Homo sapiens: one gene and its partners. The protein of the gene in region 4 interacts with the protein of the main gene of each other region in a biochemical or structural test. Each region holds a gene or a part of one and is shown on either strand. Other genes may lie near its edges.

Evidence for each region.
Region 1: the proteins of RAB3A (region 4) and CHML form a complex in vitro, tested with the Homo sapiens proteins (one study listed by BioGRID).
Region 2: the proteins of RAB3A (region 4) and RIMS1 form a complex in vitro, tested with the Homo sapiens proteins (one study listed by BioGRID).
Region 3: the proteins of RAB3A (region 4) and CHM form a complex in vitro, tested with the Homo sapiens proteins (one study listed by BioGRID).

What each region holds. Positions count from the first base shown.
Region 1 is NC_000001.11:241,633,870-241,637,369, forward strand, and holds part of CHML (rab proteins geranylgeranyltransferase component A 2), read right to left. Parts: intron 2,326-3,500; exon of another isoform or gene 2,205-2,325; coding exon of another isoform or gene 2,164-2,204; 5' UTR 1,929-2,163; coding exon of another isoform or gene 1,898-1,928; coding exon 1-1,897. UniProt on the Homo sapiens protein: Substrate-binding subunit (component A) of the Rab geranylgeranyltransferase (GGTase) complex. Binds unprenylated Rab proteins and presents the substrate peptide to the catalytic component B.
Region 2 is NC_000006.12:71,885,398-71,889,349, reverse strand, and holds the start of RIMS1 (regulating synaptic membrane exocytosis protein 1), read right to left. Parts: upstream 2,801-3,952; 5' UTR 2,327-2,800; coding exon 2,163-2,326; intron 1-2,162. UniProt on the Homo sapiens protein: Rab effector involved in exocytosis. May act as scaffold protein that regulates neurotransmitter release at the active zone.
Region 3 is NC_000023.11:85,862,559-85,866,058, forward strand, and holds part of CHM (rab proteins geranylgeranyltransferase component A 1), read right to left. Parts: intron 2,264-3,500; coding exon 2,072-2,263; 3' UTR 1-2,071. UniProt on the Homo sapiens protein: Substrate-binding subunit of the Rab geranylgeranyltransferase (GGTase) complex.
Region 4 is NC_000019.10:18,197,849-18,201,964, forward strand, and holds part of RAB3A (ras-related protein Rab-3A), read right to left. Parts: intron 2,598-4,116; coding exon 2,479-2,597; intron 1,002-2,478; coding exon 877-1,001; intron 1-876. UniProt on the Homo sapiens protein: The small GTPases Rab are key regulators of intracellular membrane trafficking, from the formation of transport vesicles to their fusion with membranes.

The DNA of each region.
Region 1 (3,500 bases), on a different chromosome or scaffold from region 4:
CATTATTGGTTCCAGGAGCCTCTGGCTGCTTATCATCACCATCAAAGATAATGTCTTCTGGATTTGGAGGTGGAGGGCAGAATTCTTCAGTTGGAAAGATCTCCTGGAAAAGTGTTTCAGCTTGCTTGACAGCATGCTCATTTCCCAGGCCACAGTCAGGCCCAGAGCAGACATAAACATTGGAAGGCAAGCCATTATACGAGCTTCTGCTGATTCCCGAGGAATCTCTCATATTAAAATAAAGAGCCCACAAGAGTCTTGGCTTTGTAAGTTCTTCCTCGTTTATTTCTGTTTCAGTATACGGAGTGAATAATTTCTTCACCACTGATTCTAAGTCTTCTCTTGCTGTTTTAGAAGATGAACATGTCAAATGTACCAGATAGGTGTCCTTCATGCATGTCATGGTTGAAGAACATAATTCTGTGACCCGTACAGCACAAGCTCCTGGCTCTGCTGGAGGAACTATCAGAATGGAAGTCTGCTGATCTAAATCTGTCTTTAGTATAGACTGATCTGTAATGAGTACTGCCCTAGAGATCTGCTTATACTGCACATTTGAGCATGTTTCCTCAGAAAGGTAACTGTCTTCCACAATAAAATATTTAGCATTTATTCTTTGACCAAAGTGATCTATAATTGCTTTACATCGTCCAGATTCTTTGTCGACTACAAAGCATTGTACTTTATGACGAAGACAATAGATTCCACCAAAAACTGCACACATCCTACAGAAACCCTGGGGAATTTCTCCTTGGCCATACAAGGGAAATAAAAAGGGGGTGTTGCCAAACCGTCCGAGACACTGAAGGAAGTTTTTAGTTGCGTTAAGACCATCTATTGTAGTGCAAGATGATTCTGATGTCATTGCAATTGAGTGCAGTACAAAATGTTGAAGGTTGGGAGTTAGTTTTTTAGTTTTTAAGTATTCTGAAAATGAACACTGCCTGAAAGCTTGGTATTCATCAGGATGTTGTTCATACTCTAAACAAAATGTGAGAAATTTCATTAGCATCCTCTTTTCAACCATGGTGAGTTCCTTGCTATTAAAGACATCTGCTCTGGAACAAGGAACTTGTTCTACCTTTCCTTCCCGAAATGCAAGAATCCTAGTGACATTTTTAAATTCTACATAACGACTAACATCTGATTTGATTAAAAGATCAATTAGCAATCCTTGAGAATACAGCAGTTTTGACACCAAATCAATATTAAACCTCCTGCCTTCTTTAACTATTTGAGAGTAAGTAATCCTATTTCTAATTGGTTCATCGGCCTTATCTTCTACTGTAGATTTGCTTTCATCTTTATCTCCATCTTTATCTGAAACTGTGTGCATACAAGTTTTATCTCCACAATACTTTTCCTTCTCCACTGATTCCTCTACATCAGTTACTTCTAGTGAAATCTCTGTATCACTTTTCTGAGTGTGTTTTGCAGGCATTTCGTCGCTATTAAAATACGATAACTGGCTTTCTTCAGGTAATGCAGAATCCAGAACTTCAGTGAAGGTATTAGACACCCCCAAAGAAGGATTTTTCTGCAGAGCACCAATCTCTTCAACGTTGTCCTCCATATCCTGACTGGCGTAGCAAAAAGCTTCTGTGTGTTGAATAGTTTCATCCTTCTTGCGAAGAGTGATGGCTTCTTCTGTTTCATGGATCAGGTCCTGCCATACAACAGTACTTTCTTCCCCAATGTCATTGTTTTGCTGATACTCCTTCAACCAGGATAGCAATCCTGAAAAGCTGAAACTAGCCCAGTTTCCTCCATAGTAGCTTCTTGAATCAATATGCAGAACCCTCTGACCACTTCTTGAACATGCAGCTGCAAGGATGGATTCGGGCAAACCTGTCCCTATTATAACCACATCAAACTCTGTGGGAAGATTGTCCGCCATTTTAGGAAGTAACAGCGTCTGGTGACAACTGCTGATGAAAGAAATGAGGTGTGATTATGCTGTAATAAAATCTGTCCTTCTGATGTTCCAGTTATCCCAGAAGCACTGAAGTTGCAGGTCCTAGCTGTTTAACGGTTACCCTTTTAAAATATTTTTTTTCTTATAAGTCAGTAGCATAAAAACATGAGCAAGTACATCTAATCACATCTGAGAATACTAAAATGGATGTGTGGTTTCATTTCTGCATTTCATCTTAGCAGTAAATGTCAAAATGCATCATATATGCATTTGTGACTGGAACTCTTCTCTGAAAGAAGAAAATTCAAGAAAGAATACATTGTAAACAATATAAGAGAAAAATAATTTCATGCAACAATGACAATCCATTGGAGTGTGACATCTTATTTGGACATAAACCTCTACTAAAGCATGTCTTAAATGCTTTCTCACATATTTTCTAATTTCTTGAGAATGGACAATAGAGATATAACAGCCCTCCCAAGAATCAGGCAACATAGTAATAGAGAATGAACATAATGTTCCACAAAAATAAAGAAGAAATAACATAATACAATTCTCTAACTTTAGCTTTTAAGAAAACTATCATGTGAATAAATCTATACACAGCTGTGAGCTTAGACTAAAAGGAACGCATGGCTCCACTGTTTATAGAAACAGATTATAAACTATGTGCATACTGCCATGATTCAAAATATTTCTGTGGCCATTACAGTCTATGTGTGATTCCAGAACAGCTGAATATAAGACCTTTCCATGCCACAACCACCCTTAGGATCTCATGGTAGCAACATGAGACTATTTCTACTCAATTACTAGTCAGATTATTACAAAAGGATTAATTCAGTAAAACAACTGGCCATTTAAAAATATTTAGGCTCATAATAGCCCTGAGGAGGAAAATGTATTAAAAATATTATATGAATGTACACATGCATATAAGTAATAAAGGAAAAAAGTGTGTAAGTGTAAGTAAAAAAGGAAAACTTCTGATTTCATATTAAAATATCTTAACATAAATAATACCTACTTCTAACATTTGAATACAGTGATGTTTGCATTTCGCCACTGTCTCTGCAACCCTGAATCTCTGCATCCCAAGCAAAAGGTCTATCTAAACATCCTCTGCCAAGACTAACACTGTTTGTTCTTATTTTTGAAGGGGAAGTTTAAAAAAAAAAAAATAATAAGGTTCTCCTGTTAACTTTGAGCATAATGCTGGTTACATTCCATGTGCGGAAGACATCTGTGTGATGCCCTGTGTGGCCAGAGGTAGAAAGGCCAAGGTGCTGAAGAGCATACTCACCTGAAAGTCTTTAGGCTAAAGCAACAATACTGCTAAACTTTCTAATATTCATCATTGCACAGTTTTGAGCTCTGGTTTTCACTACTGTTAAACCTACTGAAATATAAATCAGTACAAGCTGTACCTGTCTAGCCCAAGATGACTAATAATCCTGGATACTGGAAAAACAAGCCATTCAATTGGAACTTAGATTAAATTGCATAGGGCACACACCTTTAGTTTAACTAAAATGGCAATCCTAACAGTCCTGTCTAGTCAAAGCCTCTGTCTCAAAAATAT
Region 2 (3,952 bases), on a different chromosome or scaffold from region 4:
CTAATTTTTATTTGCCCATATAAGCCCATACAATCTTATAATTGCTGTCCTTTGGCAGTTAGCAGGTTTGGAATTCTGTCCTAAAACTCACCCACTCCCACTTAAAATCCCTCACTCTCCACCATGCTTGAGACAGCCAATGAAGAGGCATGATGGCCACTACTTGCACCGTGCCTTCCCCTTCCTATCCGGACTCTGGCAAGCAGCAGCCTATATTTTCCACTAGCTACTGGAGGCCTCCATCCACCTGCTGTCTGCAGCAAACAGCAAAAGGAACAGCAGCAAACCTGTAAATCCTGACAAGCCGAAAAGGTGTTCAGGACAGGTGGCAGGGGCTGTAACCAGTGAGTACAGACGGACTGACAACCAGACAGACAGACAGCAGCACTATCAGACACCATCCATTACTTCCAGTCTCAGAAGAGGGGAAGCCTGCAGCACCAGGGACGTCATTCTTCCACTAGGGACAGGCAGCAGATTAACGAGGGTTCTGCCTCCCTCAAGCCGGCAGGCTTAAAGTATTTGATTTTTGGATGAGAAGGAGCAGGGAATTCAGAAACCTGCTGCTCTTTATAGAACCAGGCCAGCTCTGGCCTTCGGAGTTAATGGCCCTTTTCTGAATCTACAATGAAAGAACAGGAATGACTGGATTTCTACTATTTTGCTGTGACCTAACAGCCACATCTCTCCCTCAGTATCCCCCTCCCCTATCTGAGTGTCAGTTGCCCTGGTTGGGGAACCATCGGTCTGTGAATGCAGCCTCCCTCCATTCCTCTCCTATGAGGCACTGCTGCACTGAGGGGAAGCAGAAGAAATCTTCTTCGGCAGCATCTTCTCTCGAGGAGGCACTTCTAGGGGGTGGGGGAGAGGCCATGCAGAATGTGCTCTGTGTCTGGGTTTCACCCCTGCTCCCTCCCCACCCCTCTTTTGCTATCAGGTAACTCCAGATGCAACAGGTTCCTTTTGGCTCTTCATGCCAATCCCCTGGCCCCAGATACACCTTCCAGCCTAAGCAGGGGACACCAAGGAGTCAGTCACAGTCAGGGCCCCTACATTCCCCTGCTTCAGAGTGAAAACTTTCCTGAATACATGAAGACTTCCCAAGAAAAGGCAGGGTTGAAGCCTCCTTCAGCTCTACTCTATGGGTGATGCTAAGCAAGGAAAGCCCCGTCTCTCTGCCAGTCCCTTGTAAGCAGTTTTGTCTGAGGCAAGCAGCAGCACAGTGTCACACACTCCTGCACCACCAGCAAGTAGTCCCATCTTCTCCCCATCACCAGGAAAATGGGGCATCAGACAGAAATCCCTTGAAGGGTTGATGCGCTCTAAAGAAGTGAGGAGGAGTGCAAATTCCCAATCCCTTATTGGACTGTTTCCTCCAGGAACTGAACAGGCCCCAGAGGTCTCTTGGAAACCACTAAAGAGGAACCTCTATGTTATTCAGGCCAGAGTCCCTGTCAGCTTCTCCCATGATTAAAAACTTTGTATTGCCAGTGGCATTACATATGGAGAAGAGAATCTGTCTTCACACAGGTATGCTGTGTAGAAGACTCTGAATAAAAGGTTAAAGAGAAGCTGGGGAGGCAGGTTACCAAAGATGGCAATTGCCCAAAAAAAGACCCAACCTTGATCTGTGAGATGAATGATTACTAAAATGAACACTAAAAATAAGCATTTTTATTATATAAATATAGGCAGCCTTCACTGGGGTAACCCCGACCAGCTAAACAACTCCAAGAAGAGAAGAGGAGCTGTCCTCAGCACCTCTTCATCCTGCCTCCCCTTGTTTCTACTCATCCCCTGCCCCCTAACCTGCTCCCAGCCCAGGGACCTTCCACTTGGGTGGGATCAGCACCTCTCAGCTTCTGCACTTCCCACCACGAGCGTGGCCCCCGTCCACCCATCCCTCCTCTGCACCCCAGTCTCAAGTCATCCTCCCCCGGCCTTTGGGTTCCTGGATCTGTGGCATATCCCCTCCCTCCTCCGGTCCCCTGACCTCTTCCCTGCTCAAGCCCCGCGCCCCTGGCCCAAGGCGGGCGCCTCCGTCCGCACCCAGCACCCTGGCAGCCCCTTCCCCACACTCAGCCGCGAGGACTAGGGGAGTGAGTGGTGAATGGACGGATGGAGGCACGGAGGCATGGATGGCGCGGCTGGGGCTGGCTTACTTGAGCATGGCTTCTTCTTTTTCCTCCTCTTCCTTCTGCCGGTCCATCACTGCCATGATAATGTTCCTCTCCTCTTCGGTCAGGTGGCTCAGGTCGGGCAGCTCTTGCATGGGGGGAGGCACCGTGGGTGGGCGAGGACCGCGGGGCCCCACGGCCGAGGACATTTTCGTGGCCTGCCCGCCCCCTCTGCTCGCTCTCTGGCTCTCACCTTTCGGATGCACGCCCAGCAGCTGCGCCCCTGCTTCCCCCTCACAGCGGAGCCCTAGCGGCGGCGGCAGGAGGAGGAGCAGCGGCGGCGGCGGCAGCAGCAGCAGCAGCAGAGCCGGGGAGAGCGAGAACCCAGTCTTTCATGGTTGTTTGCATCCACCCAGCCCCGGATGCTGCCTTTGTTTTGGTCGCCCTAGCGAAGCTCGGGGCCGCCCGGCCGCCTCCCGCAGCCCAGCCTCGGCCGGCGGGGGCGGGCAGGCGGAGGCGCGGCGGGAGAGGCGAGGGGGCGAGGGCTCGCGCCAGGCTCCGCCGATCCGGGCGTCTCCGGCGGGGCGCGGGGCGGGGGCGGGGCTGGGGCTGGGGCTGGGGCTGGGACTGGGGCGGCCGCTGCCGCCGTGGAGGCTGCTCCCAGGCTCTGCTGCCTCCAATTTGGGGCTGCGGGAGGGAGAGGGAGAGTTTGGGTGTCAGTTAGGCGGAGTCTCAGAGGCTTCCATCCAGGGTGATGCCGCTGCTCTCGCAGACATAGCTGCCAGCCACTCAGTCCCGGCGCCGCTCCGCCCACGGGCACCCACCCGCCCACTCCCCGGGTCCGAGCCACGCGTGCCCCGGCCGCTACCCCTACAGTCGCCAACGTGCACAGCACCTCGCTCTATCCCCAGGTACCCCTCACCCATGAGTCATCCTCCCTCTTCTGGTCCCTCGCCTATGTCATCCTCCCCAGCCCTATTTTGCATGGGTCGCATTAATCATCATCATCCTCGCTACCATCTTCATCATAGAGCATTAATATTATTTGAGCAACCACAATGTTCTGAACAGCAGAATGGAACACCCTGTGGATACATTTTCTTTTTCCTCCCTGCCACCGTGTCTTTCTTATTTACTAGTTAAGTGTTCACAGCCACAACAATGTGATTTTTTGGATGCTTTTGATACACACACACACACACACACACACACACACACACACACACACATCCTCCAACAGCCTGGATTTTCTGGGTATATTGTACTCATCAATGCAGTGTCTTTCTTGACCCGTCCTCGCTAGGACTGTTCTGCAGTGTATCAAGATGCCCCACAACACGGTAAATCTTTAATTTGTGTTTTTTGGCTCTAGGTAGCCCCATCACATCACATAACTGCTCTCTGGTGCTTACACATGAGTTATCTACTCTAATTCCTCTAATGATGTTCGCTATCATCATACTCACTCACATGTAGTTCAGAGTATCTCTGTAGGTACTTCCCAAGAAACACTGATCCCAGATAAGAAAAACACTCAACCATATCCTATTGTATTTAAGAAGCTTCTGCTAATGCCTAGCCCAATGATAGGCATTAAGGATGAGCTTCTCTTGCTGATAAAGGCAGAAATAAATAGGCAATCTTTTCAAAATAGGTAATGTTATCAGCTTTGAAACCTGGAGACTGAATTTTCTTGATATAATTATAAAAGAATCAATATAGAAAAGGGTTTAAATTGAACAACAATTTCCTAGTCAAGACTCCTTAGCAATGATGATGAGAGAATTGATATGTTTCTCTCCTAGGCTATTTTTTTAACTTAATTTAACTTAAAG
Region 3 (3,500 bases), on a different chromosome or scaffold from region 4:
GGTTATAATGTGATCCTACTGTCCCTGATTTGTGTGACATTATAAAAGGGGAAGTGAGGGAAAGGGGACTAAAGAGATGGGGAGGGGCTGTACACTGGGAGGTAGGGATAGGAGCAGCCTGAGAGGCTAGTAAGTTAAGTTCTTCCATTACTCTGGCTTGAACTATATCTGCAGTGGGTAGAAAGGTGAGGCAAGAGCTATATTCCTTGGTTCTTTCCATTTCCCATGAATCTGTGACCTGCCACAGCTGGCTTCCTTTAAGAACATCTCTGAAACCTGGTGAGGTCAGGGACCAGCTGCAGTTGAAGTATGTAAGAACTATGTACTTTACATTGGAGCCATGGCTTCCTGACAGACAATATAGGCCAGATGTTGTGAGAAAAAAAAACAAATAGTTCATTTGTTTGTTTATTTATAGGCAATTATAAGTCTCAACTATTGCTCAAATAAAGTAGACCATCAGAGCTTGGCCATTTGAGAAAATTTAAATATAGGCAACATCACTGCAGCTTAGTTTGCTGCCTATGTACAGCCCCCTTTTTTTTTTTTTGTGAGACAGAGTCTTGCTCTGTCACCCAGGCTGGAGTGCAGTGGCAAAATCTTGGCTCACTGCAACCTCCGCCTCCCTGGTTCAAGTGAGTCTGCTACCTCATCTTCAAAGTAGCTGGGATTACAGGTGCCCACCATAACACCCAGCTAAAATTTTGTATTTTTAGTAGAGACAGGGTTTCGCCATGTTGGCCAGGCTGGTCTCGAACTCCTGACCTCAAGTGATCTACCCACCTCAGCTTCCCAAAGTGCTGGGATTACAGGCAGCCCTAACGTTTTTATGTAGTGTATATTAGGGCTTACCAACTGTCATACACAATTTGGAGTCCTTGGTGGTTGCAGGTTTACCTACCAGAAAAGGAATAAAACAATTTATAGAGTGTTTTCCTTAGTAATATTTCAAAACCACAATTCTACTTGTTACTATTTTTACTGGTCTGTAAGACTATAAAATACTACTTTAAAAAAGAAATTTTCATTTAAAAAGCTTAATGCAATAAAAACACTGTGATCTATTTTGTTTGGAAGTTGACTGACAGCAAGCAATTATTTCCTGCGTGAGACTTTTGAGATTCATCAAGTCAATGGGAAAATTCTAAAACAATTTTCTTCTGGCAAACCGATTCTAAACATGGCATTGCATTGTCTTCATAACCATTCTCATATAGTAGGCATAGTAATACTATTTCCACTTTATATATGGAGAAACGTAGGCTCAGAAGTTAAACAATTTACCAAATATCATCAGTAGGACAGCCAGGATTAAATTAGGTCTGTAGACAATTAGCCTAATACTCTAGTTACTTGACAGACAGAATATTCAAATACCAATGAGCCTATCCACACCTTTCCTTCCATTCTTTCATTTCTTCATTATTGACCTTTCCCAATATGTAAATAATTTACAAACAAATATCACTACTGATACTAAAAAACACTACTGACTTATTCGTAAAAATGTCTAAACACCTTTATATTAGCATTTTCAATGCTTCTCAACATAGAAAGCAAAACAAACCTGTATTCCAAATACAGGCTTCTATCTAGATCATGATACTTTAGTTTTTCTATATGTTTTTATCATTATGTTATGATGCTCTTGTCCATAAAGAAAATAAAATTCAAATAACCAAAGAAAATACATGAGCTGGTTCTGAAAATGTGGCTTTCAAACAAAGATCCAAAGTGGTAAGCAAAATTGTCCTAAGACCATGGAATTATTAACAATGCATAGGATCACTTTCATATCCACAGTTACATTCCTGAGAATCAATTGATTTATAATTTTCATCTGCTAGTCACACAAGTTTGGTATTTAAAATGAGCAAGTCAATGTGCTTTATAAGTGTTGTGTGTTCTTGGAATGTCCTCTATAAGGAAAATCCCCTTTTGGATTTCTATTACCTATTTTGCCTTATAATTGCTGCTGCTTTCTAACATTTCTCAAACAGTCCTTCTATCAAGTAGACTCTGAGACCAGTCAGAATTTCCAAAGTTGGGTATCCAGTTTGGTGTATATCCATTATTCAGAGGACTCCTCTAGGTTTCCAAGGTTTGTGCTTTCCTTGAAAGTCTCCGAGTTAGCCTCTGGTATGGCACTGGATTCTGAAGCCTCTGGCTGTAAACTGTCTCCATCAAGGATAATGTCTTCAGGATTTGGTGGAGGGGGACAGAAATCTTCATTGGGGCAGATTTCCTGGAAAAGTGTTTCAGCCTGGCCAAGGAAGAAAAGATAAAATCGTTTTTGGAAATCGGTTTAAAATGTGTGTGCATTTCTGGCATTAACTAAAAAAAAATAAGTGTTTTATCCTTAAAAATTTGCTTAAACAGGCTACAGTACTTAATCAGAATACATGAACTTCCGTAAGTCTGTTTTCAGAATTCTATGACTTCTCCCTTTAATTCTATACATGTATTGAGGTCCACTCTTCAAGGATGGCAGTACCTCATCAGGTTCATTATCAAGTGTTCAGATTGTTGAGAACTGAAATACATTCATTCTATATATCAATAGAAATACAATTTCCTTAATATTGTTTATATGATTTCTTATAGAGCCTTGATATGGTTTGGTTCTGAGTCCTCACCCAAATCTCATCTCAAATTGTTATCCCCACGTGTTAGGGGGTGACTAGATTATGGGGGCGGCTGTTCCCATGTTGTTCTTGTGATAGTGAGTTCTCAGAATATCTGATGGTTTAAAAGTATTTAGCAGTTCCCCCTTTTCTCTTTCTCCTGCCACCATGTGAGATGTGCCTTGCTTCCCCTTCACCCTCTGCTATGATTGTAACTTTCCTGAGGCCTCCCCAGCCATGTGGCCTTGTGAGTTAAACCTTTTTTGTTTACAAATTACCTAGTCTCAGGTAGTATCTTTATGGCAGTGTAAGAGGCACTAGCATTGAGAATTGGTACCAGGAGTGGGGTACTGCTAAAAGATAACCTGAAAATGTGGAAGTGACTATGGAATTGGGTAACAGGCAGAGGTTAGAACAGTTTGGAGGGCTCAGAAGAAGAGAGGTAAATGTGGGAAAATTTGGAACTTTCTAGAGACTTGTTGAATGGTTTTGGCCAAAATGCTGATAGTGATATGAACAATGATGTCCAGGCTGAGGTGGCCTCAGATGGAGATGAGGAACTTATTGGGAACTGGAGCAAAGGTGACTCTTGCTATGCTTTAGCAAAGAGACTAGTAGCATTTTCTCCCTGCCCTAGAGATCTGTGAAACTTTGAACTTGAGAAAGATGATTTAGGGTATGTGGCAGAAAAAATTTCTAAGCAGCAAAGCATTCAAGAGGTGACCCAGCTGATTCTGAAAGCACTCAGTCATGTGTGTTCACAAAGAGATGCCTTCACATTGGAACTTATGTTTAAAAGGGAAGCAGAGCATAAAGGTTTGGAAAATTTGCAGTCTGACCATGTGGGAGAAAAGAAAAAACCATTTTCTGGGGAGG
Region 4 (4,116 bases):
ACTGGGTCAGCTTTGCATTTCCTGCTTTTTTTTTTTTTTTTTTTTTTTGAGACAGGGCCTTGCTCTGCTGCCCAGGATGGAGTATGGTGGCGTGATCATAGCTCACTGCAGTCTCGACCTCCTGGGCTCAAGTGATCCTCCACCCCCACCTCTCAAATTGCTGGGATTATAGGTGTGAGCCAGCGCACCTGGCCTCCTGCCCTTCCTTCCTAAAATTGTGTCTCGTTGTCCTTAGGGACCTGGCAAGACATGCCCTGCAGCGTCCAGCCCAGCCCCGTGCACTGGCCCTGGAAGGCTCTGACACTCAAATCCAGCTGTGACCTCCCCCTGCTCACACACCCTCTGTGACTCCCTATTGCCCTCCAAAGAGTCCCAGCCTCTCAGCACATGGTTGAGGCCCTCTGTGATCGGCCACATTTCCTCCAGCTGACCCTCATGTTCCAGTCTTGTGAAATTATTACCAAAACACACAGGACCTTTCTCACTGCAAGCCTTTGCCCAAGCTATTTCCTCTGCCTGAAAGACCCTTCTTCACTACCCACCACTCCAGGAAGCCTGGCTCCTCTCATGTGCTCCTCCCATCCAGGTCCCTCCCTCTACCTCAGGGGTCCCTCGAGGCACCCCTAGATGCCTCTTGAGCCCAGCAACACCCAACAAAGCGTTGGACGGTGAGTGTCAGAATAAATCCTTAAACTTTCTGCATGGCAAACTCCTACACATCCCTCAGGATCCAACTCAAATGGCTCCTGGATGAAGGCTAGTTTGCAGAAAGTGTGAATTACCTGGCTTTAGCTGTAAGACCTTGGGTGTGTGCCCTCCCCTCTCTTAGTGTCCTTTTTCTAGACTTGTGGGTCTCCAGCCCAGCTGGGCACTCACCAAGGTGGTCAGCTAGCTGCCGGCCACGTTCTGATGACACCACCCGCTCATCCTCCATGTCACACTTGTTTCCTACCAGCAGCACCTGGGCATTGTCCCATGAGTAGGTCTTGATCTGGGTGGACCTATAGGAGGCACCAATGGGGGCAGGTCAGGGCTTGGAGGATCCCAGCTCCACCCTGACGGGCTGATGTGGAGCCTGTGTCCTTGTCCGAGGAAGAAAGACCCAGAAGCTTGCCCCTCCATCCTCCCCACCATCCTTTCCCCCAATGTGCCCCGCTTTCACCCCACTCCAGCCCCCGACTGACCCATTATTGTTTCTGTGTTTTGGGGTTTTTTTTGAGATAGAGTCTGGGTCTGTTGCCCAGGCTGGAGTATCTGCCTGCCTTCGCTTCTCAAAGTACTGGAATTACAGGCATGAGCCACCCAGCCCAGAAATTTTCTTTTTTTGAGATAGAGTCTTGCTCTGTCGCCCAGGCTGGAGTGCAGTGGCGCGATCTAGGCTCACTGCAATCTCCGCCTCCCAGGTTGAAGTGATTCTCCTGCCTCAGCCTCCTAAGTAGCTGGGACTATAGGCATGAGCCACCATGCCTGGTAATTTTTTGTGCTTTTAGTAGAGACAGGGTTTCACTATGTTGGCCACGATGGACTCGAACTCCTGAGCTCAAGATCTACCCACCTCGGCCTCCCAAGGTGCTGGGATTATAGGCATGAGCCACTGTGCCCAACCCAGAAATTTTTTTTTAAAGTTATTACTTCTGAGCAGAAAATTGAAATGTTTACAATCTCTAACCTATGCCAACTCTCCTTTTTTTTTTGAGACAGAGTTTTGCTCTTGTTGCCCAGGCTGGAGTGCAATGGCAATCTTGGCTCACTGCAACCTCCACCTCCCGGGTTCGAGCGATTCTCCTGCCTCAGGCTCCCAAGTAGCTGGGATTACAGGTGTGCGCCACCACGTCTGGCTAATTTTTGCATTCTTAGTAGAGATGGGGTTTCTCCATCTTGGTCAGGCTGGTCTCGAACTCCCGACCTCAGGTGATCCACCTGCCTCAGCCTCCCAAAGTGCTGGGATTATAGGTGTGAGCCACCGTGCCCGGCCATGCCAACTCTCCTTATAGTCTCTATATTCTCCACCCTACACTTGCAGATATTTGTTTCTATATGGTTATAGTTTTACTTTTCCATCTGAAATCCTTCTCTGACCCCTACGTTTTATTTATTATTTTTTGAAGAAAGTTTGGCTCAGAGACAATGGCCCCAGAATGAGTGTGGAAGGCCAGAAGCGATGGCTCACGCCTGTAATCCCAGCACTTTGGGAGGCCAAGGTGGGCAGATCACTTGAGCCAAGGAGTTCAAGACCAGCCTGGGCAACATGAGGAAACCCCATCTCAACTAAAAATACAAAAAAATTAGCCAGGTGTGGTGGTATATGCCTGTAGTCCCAGCTACTTGGGAGGCTGAGGCAGGAGGATCACTTGAGCCCAGGAGGTCGAGGCTGCAGTGAGCCCTGATCGTGCCACTGCACTCCAGCCTGGGTGACAGAATAAAACCCTCTCTCAAAGAAAAGAAAAGAAAAAAAAAGAGCAAGTGGGGTACACTCACCAGTCCTGCACTGCATTGAAGGATTCCTCGTTGGTGATGTCATACATGAGGATGAAGCCCATAGCGCCCCGGTAGTATGCGGTGGTGATGGTCCGGTACCGCTCTTGCCCTGCTGTGTCCTAGGGAGGAAGAGATGAAGGTCAGAGAGGACCTGCACATAAGGCCCTCGAAGAGGAAATGAGCTCTGATATCATCCAGTTCAGCCCCCTGGGAGAAGCAGGAGCTTGCCCAGGGGCACAAAGTGTCAGGAAGAGCAGGTTGGGTCACCAGTGCTCAGAATATATGAGTGCTCCATTATTCCACAGAGTCATTCACCAAACGTACTGTGCCAGGTGCTGTGGCTCACACCTGTAATCCCAGCACTATGGGAGGCTGAGGTGGGCAGGTGGCTTGAACCCAGGAGTTCCAGACCAGCCTGAGCAACATAGCAAGACCCCATCTCTACAAAAAGTACAAAAATTAACAGGGTGTGGTGGCTCACACCTGTAGTCCCAACTACTCAGGAGGCTCAGGTGAGAGGGTTGCTTGAGCCCAGGAGGCAGAGGTTGCAGTGAGGTGAGATCGCGCCACTGCAGTTCAGCCTGGGTGACAGAGTGAAACCCTGTCTCAAAAAACAAACAGGGGGTCGGGTGTGGTGGTGGCTCACGCCTGTAATCCCAGCACTTTGGGAGGCCAAGGCAGGTGGATCACCTGAGGTCAGGAGTTCGAGACCAGCCTGGCCAACATGGTGAAACTCTGTCTCTACTAAAAATACAAAAATTAGCTCGGCGTGGTGGCATGCACCTGTAATCCCAGCTACTCAGGAGGCTGAGGCAGGAGAATCGCTTGAACTCAGGAGACAGAGGTTGCAGTGAGCCGAGATCGCGCCATTGCACTCCACCCTGGGTGACAAGAGCGAGACTCCGTCTCAAAACAATAACAACAAAAAAAAAAAAAAAAAGAAAGAAAGAAAGAAAGAAAGAAAGAAAACAGAGGCCAGGCGTGGTGGCTCATGCTTGTAATCCCAGCACCTTGGGAGGCCAAGACAGGTGGATCACTTGTGGTCAGGAGTTCAAGACTAGCCTGGCCAACATGGCGAAACCCTATCTCTACTAAAAATACAAAAAAAAATTAGCTGGGCTTGGTGGTGAGCCCCTGTAATCCCAGCTACTCAGGAGGCTGAGGCAGGAGAATCGCTTGAACCCGGGAGGCAGAGGTTTCAGTGAGCCAAGATTGCACTACTGCACTCCAGCCTGGGTGACAGAGCAAAAACTCTGTCTCAAAAAACAAACAAACAAATAAACAAACATGGACTGGGCACTGATCTTTTCCACACCCTGAACTGGACACTGGGGACACAGTTGTTAACAAGATGGGCACTTCCCTTGCTAAGTGACACTCAGTGTGGGAAATAGAAAATAACGGTATAAATGTATCCTATATTGGAGAGTGACAAGGACCAAGGAGAAAAATCAAGCCAGATGAAGATGGAGAGAATTTAACTGTAGGTTTAAAAATTAAAGGAAGCTGACACTTGCCTGTACTCCCAGCTACTTGGGAAGCTGAGGCGGGAGGATTGCTTGAGCCCACGAGTTCAAATCCAGCCTGGGCAACAGAGTGAGACTCTGTCTCTTAAAACTAACAAGGCCAGGTGGGGTG